6 separate regions of the Homo sapiens genome follow, and all the other regions are reported to be linked to region 5. Evidence: microRNA targets listed by miRTarBase, many of them from high-throughput screens and not tested one by one. Region 5 holds a microRNA gene; each other region holds the end of a gene's coding sequence.

Region 1 (4,983 bases), not on the chromosome of region 5:
CTGGGGCCAAAAGGTTGGAGCATACTTGAGGGTGGGGTAGACAGAGGCACAAAAAAGGGAAGAGAGACTCAGACCTTAGCCCCCCAGATTAGGCTAGGATTGGCCATGTGGGTGAGGCAAGACTTGGGTCTGCCCTCGGGTGGGGGAGGCATGTGCCCAAGACCCTCTTTTGACCCCTAGATGCTGAAACACTGCGCCAACTTCCCTCGGGCCCTGGAAGTCCTGCTTAATGCCTATCCTTGTGTCCCATCCTGTGAGACCTGGGTGGAGGCGGTGCTCCCAGAGCTGTGGAAGGTATGTTTGCCTCAGGGCCGAGATGGGGAGGAGGGACGAGCCACAGGCCTATTCCTTCAGGACCAGCCTCATGGAGGGAGCAGCAGGAGGGCCCCTGGGTAGAGAGGATGGGTAGAGTGGCACCCCTGGGTTTCAGGGTACCCCCTCCCCCGGTACCCCAGGCTGACCCCTAACTCCACACACCTCTCCTGCCTCCCTCACTTGCATCAGCACAGACATTTATCTGGCATCTCTTAACTTGGTGGGCACTGTGCTAGGCTCTCTGGGGTGGGAGTGGTATAGACATAGTGGAGACCCTTCCCTGAAGTGGAGCCCCAGCCCGCATTATCACTGCAGGGCCTCTATGGTTCTGAATCTGAGTCCTTTGAGACACATGAAACACCCAGGTGGGTGCATGCTGCAAAATCCCAGGACCCCCACCGCTGGGTTGCCCCCAGATGGTAGGGCAAGGGTCATCTGACCTTCTTTCACTCCTGGCCTAGGAGCACGAAGCCTTCTACAGCTCGGCCCTGTGCATGGTGAACCAGCCAAGGCAGCTGCAGCACCTGGCCCGACTAGCTGTGCGCGCTCGGTTGGGAAGCCGCTGCCGGCAGGGTGCCACCCGGCTGCCACTGCCCCCGCTCCTCAGGGACTACCTGCTGCTGCGTGTGGAGGGGTGCATCCAGTGAACCCCATGTCAGGCTGTCCCATGGTGTGTTCTGCCCCTCCCACCTGTCCCCGCCTCCAACTGCGGAGGACCAGTTCCTGGCCCTCTTTTCTTTTCTTTTTGAGACCTAGTCTCACTCTGTTGCCCAGGCTGGAGTGCAGTGGCGCTATCTCGGCTCACTGCAACTTCTACCACCTAGGTTCAAGCGATTCTTGTGCCCCAAACTTCCGAGTAGCTGGGACTACAGGCATGAGTCACCACACCTGGCTGATTTTGTATTTTTAGTAGAGACAGGGTCTCACCATGTTGGCCAGGCTGGTCTCACACTGACCTCAGGTGATCCACCCGCCTTGGCCTCCCAAAGTGTTGGGATTACAGGCATGAGCCACTGCGCCTGGTTGCCTGCCCCTCTTTTCTGTACTCCACGTGCTGTCCTGGTCCACCTCACTCCTCCATGGGCTTCTTGAGACACCTGCTGACCTCTAGCCGGACCTGAGCTTCAGACCCTCTCTCCAGCAGGAAGGGCTGCAGACTCGGCCTGTTCCCAGACTCGGCCTTCACCTCCCTTCTCCTCCTGTGTTTAAGTGGATGGCCCCTCTATCCATCCAGGTCCCATGCCAAGAACCAGTGATTCTAGTGGCCCACCACCTCCCTCTCCTGCCACCCTTATACCTGTTCAGCCTCCTAAAGAGGGACAAACTCTGTCTCTGCGTGCACTGGCTTGCCTGCCCTGCCTTTGTCACTCCAAGGGAGATCTTGAGACCCATGCCCTGAATTGGTGCTGGAATGGTCTTTGGGAGTCAAACTCTGATCATGCCCTCCAGTGGCTCCTCTCACACTAAAATCAAAACTCTTTAAAACAAGCTGAGTGCAGTGGCTTACACCTGTAATCCCAGCACTTTGGGAGACTGAGGCGGGAGGATCACCTGAGGTCAGGAGTTTGAGACCAACCTGACCAACATGGTAAAACCCTGTCTCTACTAAAAATACAAAAAATTAGGCCAGGCGCAGTGGTTCATGCCTGTAATCCCAGCACTTTGGGAGGCCGAGGTGGGCGGATCACGAGGTCAGGAGTTCTAGACCAGCCTGGCCAACATGGTGAAACCCTGTCTCTACTAAAAATACAAAAATTAGCCGGGCATAGTGGCGGATGCCTGTAATCTCAGCTACTCAGGAGGTTGAAGCAGGAGAATCACTTGAACCTGGGAGGTGGAGGTTGCAATGAGCCAAGATCGCGCACCGCTGTACTCCAGCCTGGGCAACAGAGCGGGACTCCGTCTTAAAAAAAAAAAAAAAAAAAAGTCTTCCGTGAGGAGCGCAGAGGAGGTCGCGGCGCCGGAGGCCCCAGAAGGCTCGAAGGCACCGCGGGCTGGGGTCGGTGGCTTAGGGAGCCCGTCTGGCCATGGTGGCCGCGGGTGGTGGTTGGCGCGGCTGCGCTGCGGCCCGGGGCAGTGCGGACTGGGACAGTCGCGGCGCTGACGCCCGCGGGCCCCAGCTGCAGATATGAAGCGGAGCCGCTGCCGCGACCGACCGCAGCCGCCGCCGCCCGACCGCCGGGAGGATGGAGTTCAGCGGGCAGCGGAGCTGTCTCAGTCTTTGCCGCCGCGCCGGCGAGCGCCGCCCGGGAGGCAGCGGCTGGAGGAGCGGACGGGCCCCGCGGGGCCCGAGGGCAAGGAGCAGCCGCCTGCCTTGGCCTCCCAAAGTGCCGAGATTGCAGCCTCTGCCCGGCTGCCACCCCGTCTGGGAAGTGAGGAGCGTCTCTGCCTGGCCGCCCATCGTCTGGGATGTGAGGAGCCCCTCTGCCTGGCTGCCCAGTCTGGAAAGTGAGGAGCGTCTCCGCCCGGCCGCCATCCCATCTAGGAAGTGAGGAGCGCCTCTTCCCAGCCGCCATCACATCTAGGAAGTGAGGAGCGTCTCTGCCCGGCCGCCCATCGTCTGAGATGTGGGGAGCGCCTCTGCCCCGCCGCCCCATCTGGGATGTGAGGAGCGCCTCTGCCCGGCCGAGACCCCGTCTGGGAGGTGAGGAGCGTCTCTGCACGGCCGCCCCGTCTGAGAAGTGAGGAGACCCTCTGCCTGGCAACCACCCCGTCTGAGAAGTGAGGAGCCTCTCCGCCCGGCAGCCACCCCATCTGGGAAGTGAGGAGCGTCTCCGCCGGGCAGCCACCCCATCCGGGAGGGAGGTGGGGGGGGGGTCAGCCCCCCGCCCGGCCAGCCGCCCCATCCGGGAGGGAGGTGGGGGGTCAGCCCCCCCGCCCGGCCAGCCGTGCCATCCGGGAGGGAGGTGGGGGGGTCAGCCCCCCGCCTGGCCAGCCGTGCCGTCCGGGAGGGAGGTGGGGGGGTCAGCCCCCCGCCCGGCCAGCCGCCCCGTCCGGGAGGTGAGGGGCGCCTCTGCCCGGCCGCCCCTACTGGGAAGTGAGGAGCCCCTCAGCCCGGCCAGCCACCCCGTCCGCGAGGGAGATGGGGGGGTCAGCCCCCCCACCCGGCCAGCCGCCCCGTCCGGGAGGGAGGTAGGGGGGTCAGCCCCCCGCCTGGCCAGCCGCCCCGTCCGGGAGGGAGGTGTGGGGGGTCAGCCCTCCGCCCGGCCAGCCGCCCCGTCTGGGAGGTGAGGGGCGCCTCTGCCCAGCCGCCCCTACTGGGAAGTGAGGAGCCCCTCTGCCCGGCCAGCCGCCCTGTCCGGGAGGGAGGTGGGGGGTCAGCCCCCCGCCCGGCCAGCCGCCCTGTCCGGGAGGGAGGTGGGGGGGTCAGCCCCCCGCCCGGCCAGCCGCCCTGTCCGGGAGGGAGGTGGGGGGTCAGCCCCCCGCCCGGCCAGCCGCCCTGTCCGGGAGGGAGGTGGGGGGGGGTCGGCCCCCCTGCCTGGCCAGCCGCCCCGTCCGGGAGGTGAGGGGCGCCTCTGCCCGGCCGCCCCTACTGGGAAGTGAGGAGCCCCTCTGCCCGGCCACCACCCCGTCTGGGAGGTGTGCCCAACAGCTCATTGAGAACGGGCCAGGATGACAATGGCGGCTTTGTGGAATAGAAAGGCGGGAAAGGTGGGGAAAAGATTGAGAAATCGGATGGTTGCCGTGTCTGTGTAGAAAGAAGTAGACATGGGAGACTTTTCATTTTGTTCTGCACTAAGAAAAATTCCTCTGCCTTGGGATCCTGTTGATCTGTGACCTTACCCCCAACCCTGTGCTCTCTGAAACATGTGCTGTGTCCACTCAGGGTTAAAAAAAAAAAAAAAAAAAAAAAAGCCAAGCAAGCGTGGTGGCGCATACCTGTAGTCCCAGCTACTTAGGAGGCTGAGGCAGGAGAATTGCTTGAACCCGGGAGGCGGAGGTTGCAGTGAGCCAAGACCACGCTATTGCATTCCAGCCTGGGTGACAAGAGCAAAACTCTGTCTCAAAAAACAAAACAAAACAAACGAGAAAACAACTCAGTAGAACAGAGCCTCTAGCCTCTGCCAAATTATCTGGCCTCTTGACTTCCCTTCTTCCTTCCAAGGTTCATCTCCAGCCTTAGTAAACAAGTCACCAGTTGCTGGATGTGACCTGCTCCTCTTTGCTTTCAGGTGTTTGCATGTGTTATTCCTACCGCTTGGAATACTCTTCCACATTTTTTGGCCTGGTCAAGGCTGATCTGGCCCTCAGGACTCAGTTCCAATAGCACTATCTCTGCAGAGGCTTCCTTGGTACTTATTTAAGTGCCTGTGGTTGTCTCAACTAGGCTGAGACTGGAACTATATTCCTTGAACAGGTATTTTAGTAAATGACTGCGGAAGGAGGAACATCCATGAGCCTGGGGTCCATCTATGTGCTCCCTCCGTCCCCAAGTGATGAATGGTGTCTTAAACAGTGGTCACCACATACAGTCTCTGAGGGCCCAGCCACCAACTGCCCGAATTCCCCAACTTCTTCCTCTTGTCCCAGAGTCAAAAGTACCACAATACAGCTTTTGGAGGAAGCTTTTCAAAGCAAGCCAGTTTTTATGAGTGCAAATAAATGATTAGTCCATGGAACCAAAGTATGGATGTTGTTTGACTTAAATGGGACAGAGGTCCCCATCAT
Region 2 (4,858 bases), not on the chromosome of region 5:
TTTCCCCCTTCTACCTTTCTCTCTGAAACCAATTCCCACGGAGTAGAAAGTGCTGTGCTGATGCTAATAAAATGCCTGTGGATTAATGCACTTTGCCCTCACCTCTTCCCACCTTCCCAGGTCAAGGATGGTCTCCTCTTGTTGGGGAATCCAACAAAACCAAATAGGGCCATGAATGAAAACACAAAAATCCAAACCCAAAGGGCTGGCGGGGAACACAGTGTGCCGGGCCACTTCCTTTTGGGCTTCACGGGGTCGCTAGGGAAGGGGAGAGAGACGACCCAAGGGATGCTGCCCTGTGCCTTGGCGCTGTGCCACGGAGGGCCGAAGGAAGGCGGGCACTTACTGCCAAGGCGAGCCAGGGAGGGGAGAGAAAGGGAGTGGTGTGTGTGTGTGTGTGCGTGCGCGCGTGTGTGCCTGTGTGTGTGACGTGTGTGGGCTGTAGTGTGTGATGGGGGCAAGTGTGAATGGGTGAGTATGGGTAAGGGGGAGTATGCCCCTCTTAAAGCCTCCCTGGGTGCCCTCTCCCACCGCTACCGCCGCCGGCTGTCGCCTCACCACCTTTGCTCCTATCTCCTCCCCACATGTCTCACCTTCAGACGGTGGCTCCCAGAAGCTCCTGCCCCTCTGACAGCTGTCGCTTGGGCAGCCCGAGAGAAGAATTGTCCTCTTTCCTGGTGCCAGAGGACGCAGGAAATTAGCCAGGTTGCGAGTTGCAAAGCTGCTGCCGCGGCGCCGGGAACGGAGCGCGCCCAATCTCCAGCGGGAGCCGCCAGGCCTGGCCTGGCCGGGGCTTCCCTTCGCTCGCCATCTCCGGACAAAGCACAGCCGAGCCCGGCTGGAAGGCAGAGCTCCGAAGCAGGCAGGACGGAGCGGAGCAAAAGAATGCGGCTCTATTCTCGCAAGGGAAATTATAAAAAAGTTCATGTTCACGGTTCTCATCCACATGACCGACAGCGGCCAATGGAAGGGCCGAACAACTCATAAAGTTGTATTGCAAAGTTGTAAATTTTCATAAACAACAACGGATTTATGACCCTTTCCCCATCACTGAGAGGAGGCAGCTCTTACACCGGCGCCATCTTACCACCGAGGCCGCCCCGACTTGGGGCCTCAGGTTTTACAGACCCTTTTGGGCCAGGTTTTACTAAAAGAGCCATAAGAAGCGGGCCCAGCCCAGGCAGGAGACTGGAGACGAGGTCTTGCAGGCGGAACTCAGGATGCTCTGAGCTGCCCGCACAACCCCTGGACCTTCACCCCTCGCCCCTTCCCCGCATCCAGCTGCCCCAGCCCCTGCCCAGGCTGCGTAGCCTAGCGGGGGTCTGCGGTCCTAGCCCCTCCCCGCGCCACCTACTGCAGTGCCGGACCCTGGGGCCCCCTCGCCTGGTCTGCAGGCGGGGTGGGGACCTTAAATCCCATTTCCTAGCCTGGGGCTGGGTTCAGGGCGCATGCGAATCCGGAATCAGCTCTGGGTAATGCCCCTTTCCAAGCCCACTGCTCAGCCTTAGAGGAAAGTGTGGATTTGAAATTTCCTCATGGAATTGATGGAGGTTTTTAGGTAGATTCATAGAATATAACGTATCTACCAAAGATTCCGTTTTCAAGGGATCTAGAAGATGTTAGTGCACACGCAAAAACCAGACAAACGTCTCTACACGGATAAAGGCACATATACAATTATGCACACAGGGAAGGGCATACACTCTATTGTGGGCACAGAATGACATGCAATTATGGACACACAAAAACACATGCACCCAATTATGGACACCAAAATATATACAATTGTGGAATTAGGTAAAAACACACACACAGAAATACATACACAGAAAAATAAGCACATACTCATACAAATACACACATAAAAATACATTAAAAAGATACATGACACCAATACATGGGTACCCAACACTTGGACCATCACAAGGACAGCCACCCCACTTTTGCTTCCCCACTGCCCCCTGCCCTCCAGCCATACTCACCTCCCCTTTCCCAGTCCCCTCTGGATAAGGCAGTCCACATTTTTCTTTGTCACCACGCATCTTTATTTTCGGTTACATAAAACACAGCTGGGCTGGGAAGTGTGCCTTCCCTGAACCCCAGGATGGAGCTGAGCAGGGTACAGGACAACACAGGAGATGAAGGGCATTGCGGAGGGCATTGGACCTCCCCACCCACTACAGTTAACTCAAGACAACATACCATGCTACAAAGTCACCCCATTAACACATCCTTTCCAAGTCAAGACACTGCCTTACAAATGAACTCCAAGACTATAGAAATGATAAAAAAAAATCTTGTTCAAATATACAGTATCTGCTATTATAGGAAACATCAGGGCGTACATATTTAACACAGCTGAACAGTAAGATACAGGAGCCAGAGGAAAGGACAGCGAAGCTGGAAGCATCTCCACAGTCCTGCTAAGCAGAAGCTAACCCACAGATCTGCAGCCAGCTCAGGAACATTCCCCTCCAGAAGTGGGGGTTGATGGGCCTGAGCTGTGGGTGCCAAGCCAGAGAAGGAGGGATTGATTCTAGGGTGCAAGCACTTAGGATGCTTTTTGGAATAAATATATTATTTTTCGATTTAAATAGATGCCAATACCCTGATCCTGGACCTCAGCACATTCTCAGGGCAGCCTCAGGGACCCCAAAAGCTGCGGGCTGTAAGCAGCAGGGGACTTGCCTGGGAGCAGTCGGCACTAGGTAGCAGGCAAGCCAGCCAGCACAAAATAGGTAGTTTTAGGGGAGTAGGTAGTAGTGAGATTCACTTTCTTGCGGGTCTGGGAGGGTGGTGCTGGGTGTCTGCCAGTGTTGGGATACATAGGGACTTCCTGGGAATGGAGGCCCTCTGGGGCTGGATACATAGGTAGTTTGGGGGTGCCTCGAGCAGAGGCCTGTGCTAGGTAGTATTTTGGACGCGCCAGAGCAGGGCCGGCTGGCCTGGGGTTGGGGGTGTCTTTTGGGGTCCTCGGAGGCAGAGGGAATCCAAGGCGACCCAGTCTCTGCGGCCGCTCAGTCCACAAAAGTTGGGAGCTGGAGTAGGTGATGGGGGTGGGTAGAGTGCAGGTTGGGGACTGGGTTGCTTTTTTGTTTTTGTTTTTGTTTTTTACATTTTCTTTTATTTTTCCCATTTTTGTAAGTAAAACCAGTGAGTCTCTTAAAGACGCTTTTCCGACTGTCCGGTGCAGAGAGGGCCCCGGATCGGCCCCTCATTCCTCCTCGTCTTCCTCTTCTTCATCATCGTCCTCCTCGTCGGCCTTGTCCGCGGCAGCAGTGGCGGCGGCAGAGGGCACGGCGCCCTCGGGAGCTGCGGCGGCAGTCGGACCTTCGTCCTTATGCTCTTTCTTCCACTTCATGCGGCGGTTCTGGAACCAGATCTTAATCTGGCGCTCGGTGAGGCAGAGCGCGTGGGCGATTTCAATGCGGCGGCGCCGCGTCAGGTAGCGGTTGAAGTGGAACTCCTTCTCCAGCTCCAGCGTCTGGTAGCGCGTGTAGGTCTGGCGGCCCCGCTTCCTGTCAGGTCCTGAGAACAGACATGCAGACACATGAACACAAGGACAGACAAGTAGACAGGGCACTCGTTAGGCTGCTGTCCCAGAGCCCGCACCTTCCTCCTGGCCTAGTCCCCAGCGAGCATCCCCCTCTGCCCCAGGCCCCGAACTGAGCTAGGGGAGGAGGGGGAGTGTTAGGGAAAGACCCCAACTGCAGTGCCAGACGCGCAGGCAGCTCTGTAATGAGCAAAGGCACAGAATCTCAACTTTACAACCGACCTTTCCAGCCGGCTAAGCTTCCACAATGTCCTGCTTCCTCTGACAAAGGAAAACTGTAAATATAGAGTGTGAGCAAGTGGGAAACGCTGCACTTTTGCCATTCAAAGATGAGCCCGGCCATTCCCCTGCCTTGCTAGGCAAGTGGGCGACTCTTCCCAGCAGCCTGAGCCCTCATCCCCAGGACCTTCCTAGGGCACCCCGACCCTCTGTCCTCATTCCCTCGCCCCCATCTTGAAATGGACCCTGGCACAGGGTCGGGTGAGAGGCCCTGGAGGGCTTGGCTCTCCTAGCTTTTGAGAAAGAAATGTCAGGCAGCAAGGAAAATGAGGAGAGAGAGAAGAAGAAAGGGAGGGAGGGTGACAGAGGAGGGAGAAAGAGAGACAGAATAGCGAACAAACTTAATGTTAAAATTCCAAGACAAATGGAGTTAAATAAATTTACGAGGATCGAACCCATTAATTGGGCCATAAAAAGTTTTATGAGCCTCATTTACATACAATGCTATGGGCTCCACGCAATGGCGCCTCCGCTCCAATTAAAACCAGAAAGGCTGCGCCGGGAGTCACGGGGCTACCGGCTCGCAACAGCCTGGCTCCGCTCTTCCGGCCCCGCGCCCCGCGCTCCGCGCTCCCCAGCGCTGCGCTCCCCGCTCCCGGTCCCGCTCCGCCAGCCTGGCCCGCCTAGCGACTGCGCCTACCTGAAGACCGCATCCAGGGGTAGATGCGGAAATTGGCCTCAGCCGCGCCATGCAGCGCGCCCTCGTCCGTCTTGTCGCAGGCGCCTTTGGCGAGGTCACTGCAGAGCCCGGGGATGTTTTGGTCGTAGGAGGCGCAGGGCAGGTTGCCGTAGGCGTCGGCGCCCAGGCCGTAGCCGGACGCAAAGGGGCTCTGATAAAGGGGGCTGTTGACATTGTATAAGCCCGGAACGGTCGAGGCGAAGGCGCCGGCGCCCGCCCCGTAGCCGCTTCTCTGTGAGTTGGGAGCAAAGGAGCAAGAAGTCGGCTCGGCATTTTGGAACAGAGAAGCCCCCGCCGTATATTTGCTAAAAAGCGCGTTCACATAATACGAAGAACTCATAATTTTG
Region 3 (4,983 bases), not on the chromosome of region 5:
TTTGGTTTTAACTCTCATCTTACTGAACACGTAAGGATTCACACAGGAGAAAAACCCTATGTTTGTAATGAGTGCGGCAAAGCCTTTCGTCGGAGTTCCACTCTTGTTCAGCATCGAAGAGTTCACACTGGGGAGAAGCCCTACCAGTGCGTTGAATGTGGGAAAGCTTTCAGCCAGAGCTCCCAGCTCACCCTACATCAGCGAGTTCACACTGGAGAGAAGCCCTATGACTGTGGTGACTGTGGGAAGGCCTTCAGCCGGAGGTCAACCCTCATTCAGCATCAGAAAGTTCACAGCGGAGAGACTCGTAAGTGCAGAAAACATGGTCCAGCCTTTGTTCATGGCTCCAGCCTCACAGCAGATGGACAGATTCCCACTGGAGAGAAGCACGGCAGAGCCTTTAACCATGGTGCAAATCTCATTCTGCGCTGGACAGTTCACACTGGTGAGAAATCCTTTGGATGTAATGAATATGGAAAAGCTTTCAGTCCCACCTCACGACCCACTGAAGATCAGATAATGCATGCTGGGGAAAAGCCCTATAAATGTCAAGAATGTGGAAACGCCTTCAGTGGAAAGTCAACCCTTATTCAACATCAGGTAACTCACACTGGTCAGAAACCATGTCATTGCAGTGTGTATGGGAAAGCCTTCAGCCAGAGTTCACAGCTCACACCACCTCAGCAGACTCGTGTTGGAGAGAAACCTGCTTTAAATGATGGCTCTAAAAGATACTTTATTCATATCAAGAAGATTTTCCAAGAAAGACATTTTTAATGTGATAAATGCAGAAGACAGTTTAGCAACTGTTCACTTGACATTAGAAGATAAGATGGCATAATGAAAGATATATAAGGTCTAAATATTACTGGCAAAGTAAAATAAATAGTTCAGATGACTACTAAAGTCAAAGTCATTAAATCTGGAAGTAAACACGAGAATTCATTCTGGGAAATCAGGCTGTCTGTGTAAAGGTTACTGCTGTGCTCAGGAGTTGAACCGTGTGGTGCTGTATCCGGATACTCATGACGAATGGATGGAGGGCGTGAAAAGTGAGCCCAGCTGGTGCTCTGGGTCTACCCTACCTGACATCCTTCCAGTCTTATCCTTTGTTTCCTATCCAGGCCCAGGCTTGTGGCTGAGAACATCCACTTTCAGTCCCATATACCTGCCTCCAAGTGTGGTACAGAGAACTTGGGCCTGCTGGGGGCGCTTAGCCTTACTCTCTCCACCACCTCTCCCACCAACCCCCAGATGAACTGCAGGTAGACGTTTCTTCCTTGCTTGGAGCCCCAGTTTTTGCATTTCATTTTCATTAAAATGAAAGGTGGTTTGGTTTTGGTTCTAAGGAGCTCTACAGTTTAACAGAGAGAGGGACCTTAGGGGCCAAGAAAGCAGGGGCCTACCAAGTATCTCCACTTTTGAAAATTGTAATTACTGATAAAAAATTTTTTAAAGGCAGGTTTATTGAAGCATAATTTATAAACAATAAAATTTACTCTTTTTAGTGTATAGTTCTTTGGGCTTTGACAAAAACATACAATTGTGCCACTACCACATTCCAGACATTGAACATCTTCACCACCACCCAGAATTCCTTTGTGCTCTCTTGTGGTTAACCCCTCCTCAACCCCAGTCCGTGGAAACCACTGGTTTGTTTTCTATCCTCTATCCATCACCTCACCATTTCCAGAAATAGTGTGCAGCTGTTTGCACGTGGCTGCTTTTACTGAACATGATGCATTGGAGTCATCCATATTGCCTGTGTAGAGTGCTTTTTTGCACCGAGTAGCATTCCATTGTATGGATGGAGCCATTTGTTTATCCGTTCACCCATGGCAGGGTATTTGGGCATTTTCAGTATGGGCAACTATGATTAAAGCTGCCATCACTGTGTATCAACTACAGGCTGTTTTGTGAATCTAACTTTTCAGTTATCTTGGGTAAATAGGAGTGGGATTGCTGGGTCATATGGTAAGCTTATGTTTAACATTTTAAGAAACTGCCAAACTTTTACAAAGTCAGTTGTATATCCCCACTGATGATGTGTGAGTTTAGTTGCTTTGAATCCTCACCAGATCTTGGTATTGTCCTTTTTTTTTTTTTTTTTTTTCCGAGGCGGAGTTTTGCTCTTGTTGCCCAGGCTGGAGTGCAATGGCGCGATCACGGCTCACCACAACCTCCGCCTCCCGGGTTCAATTCAAACGGTTCTCCTGCCTCAGCCTCCTGAGAAGCTGGGATTAGAGGCATGCACCACCACGCCCGGCTAATTTTGTATTTTTAGTAGAGACGGGGTTTCTCTATGTTGGTCAGGCTGGTCTCCAACTCCCGACCTCAGGTGATCCACCCACCTCAGCCTCCCAAAGCGCTGGGATTACAGGCATAAGCCAACGTGCCCAGCAGTATTGTCCATTTTTTAATATTCTAGCTATTTTAGTGGAGATGTAGTGGTATCCATGGTTTTAATTTGCATTCTCCTATTGACCATGGTTTGATCAGTAAGCATCTATTTAAAGAGTTTCATTGGGAAGTTTGAATAACACTGTAGTAGTTTCTCAGAGTGTGATCACCTGTGAAATTCTGATCTTCAATTCTTTTTTTTTTTCTCCTTTTTTCTGAAACAAAGTCTCGCGTTGTCACCCAGGCTGGAGTGCAGTGGCACGATCTCAACTCACTGCAACCTCCGCCTCCCAGGTTCAAGCGATTCTTCTGCCTCAGCCTCCCGAGTAGCTGGGACTACAGACGCGTGCCACCACGCCCAGCTAATTTTTGTATTTTTCTTAGAGACGGGGTTTCACCATGTTGGCCAGGGTGGTCTCAAACTCCTGACCCCATAATCCGCCCTCCTCAGCCTCCCAAAGTGCTAGGATTACAGGTGTGAGCCACCACGCCCGGCCTCTGATTTTCAATTCTGAGACTCTACCTGCAAGAATCTTTTTTCTTTTCTTTTCTTTTCTTTTTTTTTTTTTGAGACGGAGTCTCATTCTGTCGCCCAGGCTGGAGTGCAATGGCGCAATCTCTACTCGCTGCAAGCTCCACCTCCTGGGTTCACACCATTCTCCTGCCTCAGCCTCCCAAGTAGCTGGGACTACAGGCGCCCGCCACCACGCCCAGCTAATTTTTTGTATTTTTTAGTAGAGACGGGGTTTCACTGTGTTAGCCAGGATGGTCTCAATCTCCTGACCTCGTTATCCGCCCGCCTCGGCCTCCCAAAGTGCTGGGATTACAGGCATGAACCACCGTGCCCGGCCAAGAATCTTTTTTCAAATCTACCTTTCATTCCCTCCAGGTCTAACTGAAATATTTCCCCCCTTCAAGGAGCCTACCTTAGTTAATCTCTCATTCCATCTTTGTTTTCTTTTTTTCTTTTGAGACAGTGTCTCACTCTTATCACCCAGGCTGGAGTGCAGTGAAGCGATCACAGGTCACTGCAGCCTTGACTTCCTGGGCTCAAGCAACCCTCCGACCTCAGCTCCCAAGTAGCTGGGACTACAGGCACACACCACCATACCCAGATAATTTTTTAATTTTTTGTAAAGATGGTGTCACACCATGTTGCCCAGGCTGGTCTTGAACTCTTGGAGTCAAGCGATCCACCCACCTTGCCCTTCCAAAGTGCAGGTCTTACAGGCGTGAGCCACGGCGCCTGGCCTTACTGTTTTCTTAGGGAATTTGGGGTCACCGCTACATTTGGTTTAACATCCATTCTGTGATTTGCTGCGCTTATTCCCCCGCTCAGGTTCTGTCTCCCCCACTTTATTATTAAAATTCTTATCACAGAACCTCTTCCAAGTGTGGGAATTGCCAGCCTTAGTGTGGTCCATGTGGAATGGTCCACACAAAAGAGGGAGTGGATAGCACAGGCTCACCTGGAGGGTCCTGTCTCCCTCTGAAATGGATTCACTCTGACCTCAGGGAAAACACTGAATCTTCTTGGGTCTCTTTTTCTCCAGCTCTAAAATGGGGGAAAAAAACACCTCCCCCACGTCTAAAAAATAACTCTTTTACCCTTGTATCCCACAGCACAACATTCATATCCCCACCATTTCAACTTACATTTTCCTTTCTACCTCGTTACCCTACATTATACGGAGAACTCTCTGCTGTCAGAGATGTTGTCTTATGCACCTTTTTATCTCCAGCACACGATACAGAACAGGTGCTTAGGATGTACTTGGGAAGGAAGGAAGAGAGGTGAAGGAGGCAGAGAAAGGAAACAGTGCCAAGAATGTGCTTTGCGTAAATGTGAACCTTGTGTTCTGCTTCTGCTCTGTCCATGAGCACACTGGGTACATTAAAATTGTTTTCTCCTTCTGATCTACTGGAAAGGTCCCACAATGATGCCTCCCTTAAGAGGCCCACAGGCCTCACATTTACGTAGAATGGAAGGAAGCACCGGGGCATGGGAGGGCTTGTGGGTGGCTCTAAGGGCTGTTGTGACACGTACTTGCTGTGGACCCTGGGACTGAGGATGTTAGTAGGACAATGCATGGTTAAGCACCAAGAGAGCAAGGGAACACCTCAGGGGTAAAAATGAAGACCGAAATGAAAGTCAGAGCTTCCCACCTGGAAACTGATGCTAGGACAGCTCTGGGGCTCGTTTACAGCCCCCATGAAGACAGGCCTGGGTGGCTTGAGGGTGATGGTTGGAACCTGGGCCCCTGTCTAAAGCTGGAACCCCAAAGGGTTGAACCCCCTGTATAAAGACAGACTAGGAAAAAAATCCACCTGCGCATAAGGAGATGCTGGGCAGTCTCTACAAGTTTAGGAGATGGAGATGGAGCTGGAGTCCTGGGAGTCCAAGGTGACTAGAAGTCAAAGGAGCAGAAGAAAACTAACACAACAGAAGTAAATATACTCAAGCAAGCATCTGGAGATACTAAAAACATCTAGAATCAGATATTTTAAAACTAAAAAGTGTCTCATCCTATATTCTGTACCCCCAAAAAGAAACAGGAAGAAATACAGGAAGATATGGAACAT
Region 4 (4,983 bases), not on the chromosome of region 5:
CTGAGCTGTGTCCATGCCAGCCGCAGCTGGGGCATGGCTCCTCAGCTGAGCTCAATGTCAAACCAAAGCTGGATCCATTTTATTTGGAAGAATGCCAATTAGAGTGGCTTGTCTTGCTTCTACTCCTCAACCCCTGACATTCTACAGTTCTACCCCAAACCCCCTTCCAGAGGCCTCTGGGAAGGCTGCCTCAGGGCAAACCCAAGATGGCAACAGCCTCTGGTTTGATCAGTCGAGGAGAGCTCTGCTGCATGTTTGAACAAGAAGAGCAGCTTCTATGAGATGGCTTCATAGTTCTATAATGAGGATTTTAGAAGTCTAGGAAATGGGCAAGCAGCCTGTGTCCTTGGGAACTGCCTGCTGCACATCCAGCAAAGGGAGGTCCTTGCCATGGCCTCACTGCTTCTCCTGGAAAAGGTGGATTTGAGCCCCTCACATCCCCCCAGGTGGAACAACACAGAACTGCGGCTGCTGAGACTGGCCACAACCTCAGTCTTCTTCACGCCTACTTTTTTTTGTTTTTTGAGACAGAGTCTCACTCTGTCGCTCAGGCTGGAGTGCAGAGCGCAGTGGCACAGTCTCAGCTCACTACAACCTCTGCCTCCTGGGTTCAAGGTGATTCTCCTGCCTCAGCCTCCCGAGCAACTGGGATTACAGGTGTGCCCCACCACGGACCCAGCTAATTTTTGTATTTTTAGTAGAGACAGGGTCTCACCAGGTTGACCAGGCTGGTCTCGAACTCCTGAACTCATGAAGCCCACCAAAGTGCTGGGATTACAGACATGAGCCATCGTGCCCAGTCTAAACCCACAATTTTTAACAGAACAGACCAATCTAGGGGAAAGCCAGTAGGAGAAACTAATAGACAATTTGACAATAAAGAATCCAGGTGTGGTAAAAAATGATTTATTTTTGAAGCATGGTTAACAGCTATGCAACTAGGAACATTTCATTTACCTGTCCCATCTATGTTTTTCTGTCACAAAGACATATACTAAGACTTTGGAAAAATTCCAAAGGGGATTACACTTGAAATGTGCTGTGTTTTCACTTTTTTTTTTGTACTTGTCTTATTCACAGTGAATCAAATAAAACAGCTTTACAGCTTACTAAAACTCAAACTTGTTCTCAAAGGAAGCAGTTTAAACATTTTCAACTGAAAAATCAGCAACACAATGATTCTACATCAGGAAATCGAACCAGGGAGACAAAAAGCAGCTCTAATAGAAAGCGTGTCTTGTCAAAAGGTTAAAAATAAAAATAAAGGCCCGGGGCCAGGCGCGGTGGCTCACGCCTATAATCCCAGCACTTTGGGAGGCTGAGGCGGGGATCACAAGGTCAGGAGATCGAGACCATCCTGGCTAACACGGTGAAACCCCATCTCTACTAAAAATACAAAAAGTTAGCCAGATGTGGTGGCGGGCGCCTGTAGTCCCAGCTACTTGGGAGGCTGAGGCAGGAGAATGGCATGAACCTGGGAGGCAGTGGAGCATGTAGTGAGCCAAGATTGCGCCACTGCACTCCAGCCTGGGTGACAGAGCGAGACTCCGTTTCAAAAATAATAATAATAAAAATTAAAATAAAAAAAATAAAGGCCCGTTGAGGTGGCTCATGCCTGTAATCCCAACGCTTTGGGTCTTTACAAAAAATAGAAAAAATTAGCTGGACGTGGTGGCACAACTGTAGTCCCAGCTACTCAGGAGGCTGAGGCACAAGGATTGCTTGAGCCTGGGAAGTCAAAGCTGCAGTGAGCCCTGATTGCACTACTGCACTCCAGCCTGGGTGACAGATGACAGAGCGGAACCCTGCCCCCTCCTCCCCCACCAAAAAAACCCACACATATTATGAGGAAAATCCAACTTATTTACAAAGAATGGGTCATCTTCAGGCCTGAGATCCCAATATGTTATGGTAAAATTGTGGGTGCACCGTCCTCTTTGGAAAAAGGGGGTAAGGAACAGATCTGGCTCAATCCATGCTAAGAATCTGGTTTTAAAAGATCAAAGAAGTTTCAGAGAAAAACCTAACATCACTGTATGCCCCAGGGGTGTCATTTACCATGAATGAAAGGGCTGGGAACGCACTCTCCCTGAGGTGCCCCCCAGGCCTGCCAACATCTCATGAAATCTGGTAGTAAACTGGCAAGAGTTCCCTCTGCACCAGCAGGCTGCAGGAAGTTTGTGGGGCTGGGGGCTGGTCTTCTCTGGTCTTCCCCTGGGAAGTGCCTCCCGCTTTCCCCAAACTGCCAAGCTACCAAGCCCTCTAGTGAACAAATGAGCCATAGTCTGGAGGGCTGGCATGGTAACCAGAATGGGTGGATGCTGCCAGGAGAGGCCAGGGCCCCTGAGGATTCGGGGGTCGGCACTCTGGCAGCACCATCTCACTTCTTAGCCATTGCAAATGAGTAGGCCCTTTCTCCTCAAACCCAGAGCAGTAGCTGGCTAGAAGAAACGGCACCAGGAAGGTGGCAATAAACTCTGACTGAGCTCATGTCAGTTTTCTCCTAACCCACCTGTAGATTTGAGAGCAAAAGTCCTGACTCATCCAGCCCCAGTGTAACTGTGAAGTGCGGCTGTCATGTTTACAGTCCCAGTTACTCAGGAGGCTGAGGCAGGGGGATCACTTGAATCCAGGAGTTTGAGGCTGCAGTGAGCTATGATCACACTACTATACTCCAGACAGAGTGACAGAGTGAGACTCTGTCTTTTTTTTTTTTTTAAGACGGAGTCTCGCTCTGCTGCCCAGGCTGGAGTGCAGTGGCATGATCTCAACTCACTGCAACCTCCGCCTCCCAGGTTCAAGTGATTCTCCTGCCTCAGCCTCCTGAGTAGCTGGGACTACAGGTGTATGCCACCATGCCTGGCTAAATTTTTGTATTTTTAGTAGAGACAGGGTTTCACCATGTTGGCCAGGCTGGTCTCGAACTCCTGACCTCAAGTGATCTGCCTGCCTCAGCCTTCCAAAGTGCTGGGATTACAGGCATGAGCCACCATGCCGGGCCGAGACTCTGTCTGTTTAAAAAAAGAAGAAGAAGAAGAAGTAAAAGAAGGCAGCTCAGCTGGTACAGTAGAAAGCCTATTCTGGAAACTGCCATGATGGATGGCTAATAAAATATTGGAGATACTTAACCCTTAGCCAAACAGTATGTGTCTGTGTGGTGTGTGTGAGTATGTACATGTATGATAGACTGTGTGTGTGTGTGTGTGTGTGTGTGTGTGTTTGTGTGGTGGGGGTATGTGTGTGAAGGCCCCAGAAGGTGGCCCTGGGACAAAGCGCTCCTACCACTTGTCCCCAGCATAGGACAGCCACACAATTCAGAGCACAGGAGAGCCCACACCTGGAGGCTGGGCTGCCCTTGCGGGTGGGGTTAGCAATAGCTAACATGAAAACTTCCAGATAGCAAACCTCCCCTGGCCACCTGACTACATATTTCAAACATTACCTGAAGCAATGAAATTCAAGAGCATTCATAGTCTTTTTTAAACTTCTGACTACGACCCACATTGAGGTTAGTTACATGGCTGCCAAGGGGGTGGGGACACAGGATAGGTAACAAGAGTTCAGACTCAGCCTGATGGCACAGGGTGCGCTTTGCCCTGTCCCAGTCCACTGTGTTTGTGGTGGTGACCCACTAAATTGATTTTGTGACCCACTTGTGGGTTCTACTGCAGCTTGGACCCGCAGTCTCCGTGCACATGGAAAATCATTCCCTCCACGGAAGTGGGTGGACCTCCCCGCAGCAGGCCCCGGCCTCAGTGAGGATCACCAAGTGCCACCAGGCCCCCACAACCCCGCTCAGGAGGAGGAAGCAGGCTTCCCTGACCATCTTTAAAGAAAAGGGGGCACCATGATGGGCCCACTCAGGTCCAGGCTGGCAACCACAGGTCCACCCGTCCAAGACGCAAGGCGAGGCTGGGCCATTCCCTGCAAGTGCGTGTTGGTCCCTTAGGGCTTGCCCAGGGGCGCCCCCGCGCTCTGGCATCTCTGTACCAGGAGGATGAGCCTGGCGAGGTCTGAGAGCTCCGGGAACGCGGCCATCACGCGGTCCACCTGGTCACGCGGGAAGACGCTGTAGAGCGCGATGCGAGCCCGGGCGCGCGCGTCCCCCTCGTCGTCCTCGGTCGCGTACACTGAAAGTCCCCCAGTGGCGCCGTCGCCCCAGGCCGGCTCCGCCCAGACGGAGCGCCCAGGGAAGCGGTCGGAGCGGGGTGGACGGGCCCACGGGTCGTCGGGTGGCCTGCGCGGGGAAAGCAAGTCGCCGTGCAGGTCCCTAGGGCGGTGTTCGCCCCGCGGCTGGAGCTGCAGGCCGGGCGGAGGCGGGAGGTCGCCCGGGGAGAACTGGCTCTCCGGGCTAGGGAGGCTGAGCGGGCCTGGCACCCGGCCGCCCGCGGACACCCAGTCGGGCCCGCCCAGTCGGGGCGTGAGGCTGCAGGCGGGGACCGGGAGAGGCGGCCCCAGGGGCCCCAGGTCGTCGCTGAAGGCCAGCCGAGAGAAGCTCCCTCGCAGGGCGGCCAGGTCCGGGGACCCCCGCGCCGGCGGGAGGCTGTGCGCAAATGGTTCCCGGGGGGCCGCCCGGGCTCCTGCGGAGCCGCCCGGGGCTCTCGGTGGCCGCTGCTCCTCGGCGCCCGCGCCAGGCCGGGCCCCTGTCTTGGCGCGGAGCTCGTCGGCCACCGCCAGTTGCGCGTGGTGCGGCCTCTCCGGGTGGTAGAACTTGCACTTGATGCCATAGGTGCATTTCTTGCCTGAAAGGGGCGGGGGCAGAGAGGGCGCGACGTGAGGCCCGGGGGCGCGGAGGGGCGGTGGTTCCTGGTGCATCCGGGGAGTGCCGGCCCGCGGCCTCTCCGTGGAGATTCCTCCAAGCAGGCCCCCAGGCCGCCGCGGACTCCTCAGACTCAGCGCCCTGGAAACGCCTCAAGATCTGGGCGCGGGGCCGAGGTGGGGAGAAGTGCCCGGGAGGCGCGGGCGGCCTGGGTGAGGGGGCGC
Region 5 (4,000 bases):
AGCCTGGGCAGCCCCAACAACTCCCCCTCCCCCAGGAAGTTCCCAGAGGGCCAGGTTCAGTGGAGTGTGCCCACCTGACTAGATCGCTGGGGCCATGGTGGGCTTGAGGGTGGGGCTGTCCTAGAGCATTAAACAGCTGTTGGGCCCTGGGCTGACCCCCCCACCCTGCATGTGTGGGGGTCCCCACAGCTCTTATGTTCCTCCTGGGCATCCTGGACTTCCTCTTCGTCAGCCACGCCTATCACAGCATCCTGACCCGTGGGGCCTCTGTGCAGCTGGTGTTTGGCTTTGAGGTAAAACTGGCTTGGGAGGTTGAGAGGACAAGCCCGAGGTGACCCCACATGTGCCTTGAATAACCCAACAGACCCTTCCTCAGCACCTGCTATGTGGCCAACCTGTGCTGGCCACCAAGGGGCAGTGATCAGATATGGCTCCTGCCCTCCACACGCTCACTCCTAGGTGACTGGGGAGACGCACAAAGAGGCTAGGACAGAGGAGGAGCCCCAACCTGGGGCTCAGGAGAGGGTTCCTGGAGGCTCGTGCCGGAGCTAGCTGGTAATGGACAGGAGAGGATTAGTTCCATGGACAACTGGAGGCGTGTCCCTGGCAGAGAGAGAATGTGTTCAGTGACAACAGCTCATATTTGTTGAGTGCGAATTTCACACCAGGCCCTATGCTGAGCTCCTGACCTGCATCTCTTATTCAGCAAGACAATACTGTTATAAAGGAACAGTTAATTATGTCATTTTATAGATAAGTAAACTGAGGTTCACTGAGTTGCCAAAAGTCACAGCTAGTAAGTGGAGGGGCTAGGAGGACCCTGGGTGTGTCTAGAGCCTGTGATTGTACCACTGCACCTGCTGTGCAGAGGCCTTGGGGAGCAATGTGGGTGCAGCAAGGGGGAGCTATGTGTTTACATCCCCCTCGTCCCCCTCTCCCTTCAGTATGCCATCCTGATGACGATGGTGCTCACCATCTTCATCAAGTATGTGCTGCACTCCGTGGACCTCCAGAGTGAGAACCCCTGGGACAACAAGGCTGTGTACATGCTCTACACAGAGCTGTTTACAGGTGAGAGGGGCCTGGGCCTCTCCTGATCTGGACCAGCATCCTCCACTCTGCCTCCTGGCCCTGTGACCTGCTGCTTTCTGCATCCCCTCCCCTCAGGCTTCATCAAGGTTCTGCTGTACATGGCCTTCATGACCATCATGATCAAGGTGCACACCTTCCCACTCTTTGCCATCCGGCCCATGTACCTGGCCATGAGGTGAGCCCGGCCCTGTCCCCCGATCCTCCTGACCTGATCCCGTCCCTTCTCCTGCTTTCACTGACTGTCCTTTCAGACAGTTCAAGAAAGCTGTGACAGATGCCATCATGTCTCGCCGAGCCATCCGCAACATGAACACCCTGTAAGTAGGCTTGTCATGGCTGCTGTCCCAAGCTCGGTCCTGGGTCCCTCTGCTTCCAGCTCTGGACCTGATACAGCCCCTGTCATCCTAACCAGGTATCCAGATGCCACCCCAGAGGAGCTCCAGGCAATGGACAATGTCTGCATCATCTGCCGAGAAGAGATGGTGACTGGTGCCAAGAGACTGCCCTGCAACCACATTTTCCATACCAGGTGGGAGGGGCCCTGGGGAGCCTGCACAGCAGGGCACAGGCCCCAGAAGGCAGGCCCCTAGGGACCTGCTGACCTCTGCCTGGCCTTGACCCGCAGCTGCCTGCGCTCCTGGTTCCAGCGGCAGCAGACCTGCCCCACCTGCCGTATGGATGTCCTTCGTGCATCGCTGCCAGCGCAGTCACCACCACCCCCGGAGCCTGCGGATCAGGGGCCACCCCCTGCCCCCCACCCCCCACCACTCTTGCCTCAGCCCCCCAACTGTGAGTATCCCCTTGTCTGGCCACCCGGCATACCACTGGATACTTGCCCTGGGCTGGATGTGGAAGATGCTGGGAAATTGGAGAGTCCCTGCCCTCCAGAATCTCAGTCTGGGCCAGGGAGGGATTAAAAGATGAGAAATAGATGCTTGCAGTCAGTGTGACCAGTGCTGGGCTGAGGGCCTGTGGGAATAGGACAGAGCTCTCAATAGCCAGGCCCCCTGCCTGGGAGTTGGGTCTGTGTCCATTTGGCCCTTTCCTTACCTCCGTCTTCTCTCTGCAGTCCCCCAGGGCCTCCTGCCTCCTTTTCCTCCAGGCATGTTCCCACTGTGGCCCCCCATGGGCCCCTTTCCACCTGTCCCGCCTCCCCCCAGCTCAGGAGAGGCTGTGGCTCCTCCATCCACCAGTGCAGGTGAGCCTTTGGGTACTGTGACAGCCAGGGGGCGGCAGGGATGGAACACTCACTGACTTCGTTCCTGCTCTTCAGCAGCCCTTTCTCGGCCCAGTGGAGCAGCTACAACCACAGCTGCTGGCACCAGTGCTACTGCTGCTTCTGCCACAGCATCTGGCCCAGGCTCTGGCTCTGCCCCAGAGGCTGGCCCTGCCCCTGGTTTCCCCTTCCCTCCTCCCTGGATGGGTATGCCCCTGCCTCCACCCTTTGGTAAGCTGGGCCACTCTCTGGGTTCTTCTTGGGGGTGAGGTTGGTGTCTGGCCCCAGCAGCCCAGACTGAGCCTCTCTCTCTCCAGCCTTCCCCCCAATGCCTGTGCCCCCTGCGGGCTTTGCTGGGCTGACCCCAGAGGAGCTACGAGCTCTGGAGGGCCATGAGCGGCAGCACCTGGAGGCCCGGCTGCAGAGCCTGCGTAACATCCACACACTGCTGGACGCCGCCATGCTGCAGATCAACCAGTACCTCACCGTGCTGGCCTCCTTGGGGTGTGTCTGTACAGGGGAAGCAGAGTGGGTTTGGTGGGTCAGGAGTGGAGCTGCCAAGAGGTCCCCAGCAGTGGTTCTTGGCCTTTGACACCTGCCAATTCAGGCTGCCTATCTACAGGCCCACCAAGGGTCTCCAGGAGTTCTTGGTAACTCCTGGTGCCTTTATTTCCCACTCCAGAAAGCATGTCTGGATCTAAGTAGGAGTGATGTTTATTCGAGAGCTGACTTTAGATCTTATTCCTTTATATTTTTCTAAAGTCAAATTATTCAGAATTTGCAGTGCTTTAGTTCATCACATGATATTCTTCTGAGATGTGGTGACACTTAGATTGGCAATTGCTGCCCCCAAACTGAGGGAGCGAATAATAGGAAGTCACTTGGAGCCATCCTGGCTCAAGTTCAAGCGCTGGTCCCATCACTCATTTTTGACCTCTCATTATTTGAATAAAGGGGTCTTAATTCATATTCATAAGTGATGTGTACTGCCAGATACACACCTATAATCAGCACTTTGGAAGGCTGAGGCAGGAGGATTGTTTGAGCCTAGGAATTTGAGGGTGCAGTGAGCTATGATTGTGCCACTAAATTCCAGCTTTGGTGACAGAGCCGAGACGCTGTCTTTTAAAAAAGTGACATGTACATAATGCCTGGCATCTAGCAGTGACAGCACAGGCTTGGAGAGGAACTTGAGTCCAAGGCTCGAGCACTGTGGCTTATTGAGTGAGTCCCCTATAAGGTGCCTGACTCCCCAGGGTGGAGACTGCAGGGTAAGAGTGAACAGGTCAACAGTCCCTGCCTGCAAGCACCTTACAGCTAAGGGATAGAATCATTTGGCCCTTGAGTCCAGTCACCCTGTCTGAGTTCATTCAGCATGTTCACTTGTGTTTGCCAGGCACTGGGGCCACAAGGGCACATCATTCTATACTCTGTTCTGCAAGGCTCACCAAGGGCAGGAGAATCTGCCCAACCTTGGATGCCAAGGCCAGGCCCGCCTCTCGTCCCTTCTCTTCCCAGGCCCCCCCGGCCTGCCACTTCAGTCAACTCCACTGAGGAGACTGCCACTACAGTTGTTGCTGCTGCCTCCTCCACCAGCATCCCTAGCTCAGAGGCCACGACCCCAACCCCAGGAGCCTCCCCACCAGCCCCTGAAATGGAAAGGCCTCCAGGTAGGTGTGATTGGCCTCCAGC
Region 6 (4,983 bases), not on the chromosome of region 5:
CGGGGCCGGGTTGGAGGGCACAGAGAGAGGGGTTAGGGCCAGGGTTGGGGGCACAGGCAGAGGGGTCGGGGCCAGGATGGAGGAGGCCCAGGCAGAGGGGTGAGGGCTGGGGTGGGGGGCACAGAGAGAGGGTTTGGGACCAGGACTGGGGGAGTGGGCAGGTAGAGGGGTCGGGGCTGGGGTTGGGGGCACAGGCAGAGGGGTCAGGGCTGGGATGGAGGAGGTACAGGCAGAGGGGTCAGGGCTGGGATGGGGGGGCACAGGCAGAGGGGTCAGGGCTGGGATGGAGGAGGCCCAGGCAGAGGGGTCAGGGCCAGGGTCGGGGGGCACAGGCAGAGGGGTCAGGGCTGGGGTGGGGATGCCCAGAGGAAGCCTCTGCCCTAGCGGGAAGGGCCAAGGAAGATGTTCTGGAAATGGGGGCATCTGAGATGAGACCTCAGGAATGAACAGGAGCCATTCTGCCGGGAACAGTGTTTTGCAAATGAGACCACCGGGGCCTCCCTTTCAGCTTTCGTTCTCAGAGGGCCCCTCCACCTGGCCCTGTTCTGGCCCCCGAGGATTCTGTGGGAAGCAGTGGAGTCCCACAGATCTCGCTCCACACTCTGCTCCCTGATCCCGGGGCTCCTCCGACTCCCCCTGCCTCTCACACTCCTTCCCATCCTCCCCTCCCACTCAGAAACTCTTTGTGGTCCCCGCGGATGAGGCCCAGGCTCGAATCCCATATGCCCGTGTCAACCACAACAAGTACATGGTGACTGAACGCGCCACCTACATCGGTGAGTGTCTTGAGCACCACGGGGCGCTGAAGAAGAGGGGGTTCAGACACCAGGGGCGGCCCCCCGAGGGTGCCCTTATGCTCCACCCATTCCTCTCTAGGAACCTCCAACTGGTCTGGCAACTACTTCACGGAGACGGCGGGCACCTCGCTGCTGGTGACGCAGAATGGGAGGGGCGGCCTGCGGAGCCAGCTGGAGGCCATTTTCCTGAGGGACTGGGACTCCCCTTACAGCCATGACCTTGACACCTCAGCTGACAGCGTGGGCAACGCCTGCCGCCTGCTCTGAGGCCCGATCCAGTGGGCAGGCCAAGGCCTGCTGGGCCCCCGCGGACCCAGGTGCTCTGGGTCACGGTCCCTGTCCCCGCGCCCCCGCTTCTGTCTGCCCCATTGTGGCTCCTCAGGCTCTCTCCCCTGCTCTCCCACCTCTACCTCCACCCCCACCGGCCTGACGCTGTGGCCCCGGGACCCAGCAGAGCTGGGGGAGGGATCAGCCCCCAAAGAAATGGGGGTGCATGCTGGGCCTGGCCCCCTGGCCCACCCCCACTTTCCAGGGCAAAAAGGGCCCAGGGTTATAATAAGTAAATAACTTGTCTGTACAGCCTGTGCCTGACTGAGTGGTGTGAGATGGGGTGCAGGGGTAGGGGACAGCTGGCATGGGCCTCTGGTGGGGACATCTTTTTGTGCTGAGCCCTCAACATGTCACTGGCATGTGCTGAGCCCTCAGTGTGTGACCAGTGTGGGTTAGCATGTACTGAGCCCTCAGCATGTGCTGGCATGGGTTGGCATGTGCTGAGCCCTTAACATGTAGTGTACATGGGCTGACCTGTGCTGAGCATGCAGCGTGCCACCCTGTGGCCCGGCATGGACTTAGCACTCATGTAGCCAGCATGGGTATGTGCTGCAGAGAAGCATGTTCCCAGATTGATCAGCAGGGACCAAACCATTGCCACATCCCAAGGGTGAACAAGCATGGCTGAGCACCAGAGTGTGCACCAAGTGTGAATTTAGGCCTGCCAAGTGGATTTACACCCAGCACGTCCCAAATGTGGGTGAGTGCATGCCAACCCTGTAAACATGTAGGAAGGACAGGTCAACAGACAAGGAGACCCCAGCATCCGGCAAACTTGATTAACACATACTGAACACAGCATGTTCTGAGGGTGGATTCCCAACACGCCAAGCACATAGCGTATTTAGGACAAGGGTTAGTCAACCAAGCACAGCTTTTCCCTCCTAGTGTGACAGCAGCCCAGGCTCCCGCCTAAGCCAGTGGTCAACTGGGCCCAGCATCGCAGAGCAAGTCACTGGGTGCCAGCCTGGAGCCCCCATTCCCCCCAGGGCCAGTCCAAGCCCCAGGCAGTGAGAGCAGGCTTGAAGCAGGACTGCTGAACAGTTCTATATTGAAATAGACAGAGGCAGCAGGGCCAAGGGCGAGCGCAGGGCCAGCGGGGTGCAGCCCCCTTTCCTGCTGTCCTTCTGGCCAAGGAGCATGGGCCAGACTCCAAAGCCCTGCTGTGTTTAGGAGAGGTGTGCAGGCACGCACCGCACCGCAGACGGGGAATGAGAATTTCTGGATAACTATCTTTCTGTAAGAATAATTTGTGGGTTCAGGAGATGGCTCTGAGGAGCAGTTCAGGTTGGGAGGGAATGCCAGCCCAGCTAGCGCAGCCCCCAGTGATGGGCAGGGGTGGAATCACCATCAGTGGTGCCCGGTGACATGCTGGAGGAAGCTGGTGGCCCCCCGGGGTGGACCATGCTGGTGGGAGCGGCGGGGTGGGAGCCCCTGAGCCCGTGGGCCCCTGACGCTCTCCAGGGTGCAGTCTGGCTCACTCAGCCATTCTCCAGGACAGCTGCTGGGGTCGAAGAGCTCAGGGTCTGGCCTCTGTGGGGGAAGAGAGAGGGGCATCAGCCAAGCAGTGTTAGTGTATTAGTGTCTGCTGAGCCTCTGTCACCTCCTCCTGATGAGGGTGAGCATGTGCTAGGGTCTTACCAGTGCTGGGCCTTTATTGCCCCTTTGTAGTGATGTGATGACAGCTCACTGCAGCCTCGACCTCCCTGGCTCAAGTGATCCTCCCACCTCAGCCTCCTGAGTAGCTGGGACTACAGGTGCATGCCACCAAAACCAGCTAATATTTCTAATTTTTTGGTGCAGACGGGATCTCACTATGTTGCCCAGGCTCTTTATCAAGCTTCTTATAAGTAGATTACTGTGCCCTGAGTTTTTGTCACAGCCTGGAAGTAGCTGAGTAAGTGCTGAGCCTTATCATATCTTGACGGTATTAGGTGTGTGCTGAGCCTCCTAAGTCCCTAATTGTATCCTGAACATGGGTGAGTGTGTGTTGAGCCTCCTCACACACTAATCATATCCTGAGCACGGGTGAGTGTGTGCTGAGCCTCCTCCCACCCTAATCGTATCCTGAACGCACCCGGCTCACCTCAGCTTCCATGGTCATGTTGTCAATGTTGGGCCCATCCTCATCTCGCTGCAGGATGGCCAGTGGCTCAGCAGAGGCCCCGAGATGCTCTCCTTCCTCCCAGCTGCTGCCCCGGCAGGGCCTGTCATCCTCAGGCGAGACCTGGCTCAGCCGAATGAGGTTGCTGAAGTTGGAGTCGGACTTGGAACCCGCAGGTGGCTTGCGGGCCTTGTGGCGGCCTGCCAGGCGGCTGCTGTAGAAGGCCAGGATGGGCTCAGGGCCCGAGTCGGGCACATGGTGGCCAGTGATGGCTGCCTTGAGGGGGACCATCATGTCGGAGACCGCATTGGTGCAGGTCTCACCCCACAGCCCATGCCCAGCCTCCTGCAGACTCAGGTCATCCAGCTGGTCGATGGCTCTTTGCATACCTGGTGCCTTCTCCTCTCGGAAGAAGGGGCTGCTGCCGGCCACACTGCCCATACCCGCAGCCTCCTTCTCCTCAGCCAGACAGTAGTAGGGGGTCCCATCTTCTGCGGCCACGACGGGCGTGGGGGGCTTCCCCTCCACTTGCAGCGAGAGGCGGTAGCTGCGCAGCGAGAGCTGGTAGTAGTGGGTGGTCTCGTGGGCACTGCGCAGCTGCTGCATGGACACGAAGGGGTGGCGCAGGGCAGCACTGGGGCTGATGCGTTCGTGTGACTCCCAGGTCAGCATGCGCTTGATCAGCTCCACCATGCTCTTGAGGTCGGCGTGCTCCGCCAGCGCCTCCCGGTCAGGGAAGGTTAGCCGACTGGCCACACTGCCACCATTCACTGTCTCAATCTGGTCCAACGACTTGAGCATATACTTGCGGCGCTCCAATGGGCGCACCTGGCGGGGCATGGAGAAGGGGGCAGGGTTGACCATTGTGCAGGGCTAGGGCCCTGGGCACTCCTGCTGTGGCACCCACATGTAGCCCCGACTTCCAGGTCTGCCCATGATCTGCCTTGGAGCTCTCTGGCTGCTAGGAGGGCCACCCTGGATCCGTCACACCCAAGCCCCTCTAATCGAACCCAAATCACTGGCCCAAGTTCCACCCCTTGCCCCAGACCTCCAGTCCCCTTCAGCACCATGGGTGCAGCCCCTACCAGCAGCTAGCAGAAGGGCTGCCCGGAATCTCTAGTCCTCCCTGGAATCAAATCCAGGTCCCTCTTACTGCCACAGCTCCACACTTGATCCCAGGCCTCCTGGTGGTCAAACCCAGACCCTTCTTGCTATAGTAGTTTGTCACCCCCTGCTATTAAACTGCCATTGACTTTTAGTCTCACCTGTGGTCCCATCCAGACCCTTCTTGCTGTGAAATCAAGACCTATGACCTCAAACTCCTAGTCCCCTCTGCTGTCTAACCCAGGCTCTTGCTGCACAGATGGGAGGGGCAAAGCCACAGAGGTAGCAGACTGGCTGCTGCCCCAAACCTCTAGACTCACCTGAGGTCTCACTCAGATCCTTTTTTTTTTTTTTTTTTTTTTTTTTTTGTATGTGTGTGAGACAGAGTTTCACTCTTGTTGCCCAGGCTGGAGTGCAGTGGTACAATCTCGGCTCACTGCAACCTCCACCTCCCAGGTTCAAGCGATTCTCCTGCCTCAGCCTCCTGAGCAGCTGGAATTACAGGTGTCCACCACCATGCCCAGCTAATTTTTGTATTTTTAGTAGAGATGGGGTTTCACCATGTTGGCCAGGCTGTTCTCGAACTCCTGACCTCAGGTGATCCACCCACCTCGGCCTCCCAAAGTGCTGGGATTACAGGTGTGAGCC

What was found. Region 5 holds the annotated microRNA hsa-miR-6751-5p (UUGGGGGUGAGGUUGGUGUCUGG, at 2,568-2,590, shown strand). A microRNA usually pairs through its seed, bases 2 to 8, with sites in the 3' UTR of a target mRNA and lowers its output. Matches are read on the target gene's strand: a 7mer-m8 pairs with bases 2 to 8, a 7mer-A1 pairs with bases 2 to 7 and ends in A, and an 8mer does both.
Region 1: miRTarBase lists ASB16 as a target of hsa-miR-6751-5p. The part of its 3' UTR that is shown has no 7-base or 8-base seed match.
Region 2: miRTarBase lists HOXA7 as a target of hsa-miR-6751-5p. Seed matches in the 3' UTR shown: 7mer-m8 at 3,052-3,058, 8mer at 2,952-2,959, 8mer at 2,877-2,884 and 7mer-m8 at 2,482-2,488.
Region 3: the mRNA of ZNF251 is a reported target of hsa-miR-6751-5p. Seed matches in the 3' UTR shown: 7mer-m8 at 1,247-1,253.
Region 4: the mRNA of ZC3H12D is a reported target of hsa-miR-6751-5p. Seed matches in the 3' UTR shown: 7mer-m8 at 3,228-3,234.
Region 6: the mRNA of PLD3 is a reported target of hsa-miR-6751-5p. Seed matches in the 3' UTR shown: 7mer-m8 at 1,212-1,218, 7mer-A1 at 1,270-1,276 and 7mer-m8 at 1,315-1,321.

What each region holds. Positions count from the first base shown.
Region 1 is chr17:44,177,429-44,182,411 of GRCh38, forward strand. ASB16 (ankyrin repeat and SOCS box containing 16) reads left to right here. Exons shown (of 5, transcript NM_080863.5): 4 at 181-294; 5 at 777-1,656. The coding sequence ends at 962. ASB16-AS1 (ASB16 antisense RNA 1) reads right to left here. Exons shown (of 3, transcript NR_049730.1): 2 at 4,195-4,292. Among named protein-coding and RNA genes, the nearest start is that of ASB16-AS1, 6.8 kb to the right of the region's middle.
Region 2 is chr7:27,151,695-27,156,552 of GRCh38, forward strand. HOXA7 (homeobox A7) reads right to left here. Exons shown (of 2, transcript NM_006896.4): 1 at 4,473-4,858; 2 at 2,022-3,528. The coding sequence starts at 4,851. The coding sequence ends at 3,215. HOXA3 (homeobox A3) reads right to left here and starts at 889. Exons shown (of 6, transcript NM_153631.3): 1 at 594-889. It overlaps HOXA-AS3 (HOXA cluster antisense RNA 3), which reads left to right. Exons shown (of 3, transcript NR_038832.1): 3 at 600-4,234. RefSeq lists an enhancer at 2,825-3,409.
Region 3 is chr8:144,717,438-144,722,420 of GRCh38, reverse strand. It overlaps ZNF251 (zinc finger protein 251), which reads left to right. Exons shown (of 5, transcript NM_138367.2): 5 at 1-1,512. The coding sequence ends at 777. Among named protein-coding and RNA genes, the nearest start is that of ARHGAP39, 34 kb to the right of the region's middle.
Region 4 is chr6:149,446,738-149,451,720 of GRCh38, forward strand. It overlaps ZC3H12D (zinc finger CCCH-type containing 12D), which reads right to left. Exons shown (of 6, transcript NM_207360.3): 6 at 58-4,742. The coding sequence ends at 3,946. Among named protein-coding and RNA genes, the nearest start is that of ZC3H12D, 36 kb to the right of the region's middle. RefSeq lists enhancers at 4,430-4,981, 4,982-4,983.
Region 5 is chr11:65,128,541-65,132,540 of GRCh38, reverse strand. It overlaps MIR6751 (microRNA 6751), which reads left to right and starts at 2,563; the gene lies at 2,563-2,625. It overlaps SYVN1 (synoviolin 1), which reads left to right. Exons shown (of 16, transcript NM_172230.3): 6 at 190-293; 7 at 945-1,071; 8 at 1,168-1,267; 9 at 1,344-1,409; 10 at 1,505-1,621; 11 at 1,718-1,881; 12 at 2,162-2,290; 13 at 2,366-2,539; 14 at 2,626-2,812; 15 at 3,827-3,978. RefSeq lists an enhancer at 142-191.
Region 6 is chr19:40,377,110-40,382,092 of GRCh38, forward strand. It overlaps PLD3 (phospholipase D family member 3), which reads left to right. Exons shown (of 13, transcript NM_012268.4): 12 at 677-776; 13 at 877-1,376. The coding sequence ends at 1,064. It overlaps HIPK4 (homeodomain interacting protein kinase 4), which reads right to left. Exons shown (of 4, transcript NM_144685.5): 3 at 3,214-4,059; 4 at 2,162-2,660. The coding sequence ends at 2,478. Among named protein-coding and RNA genes, the nearest start is that of MIR6796, 9.8 kb to the left of the region's middle.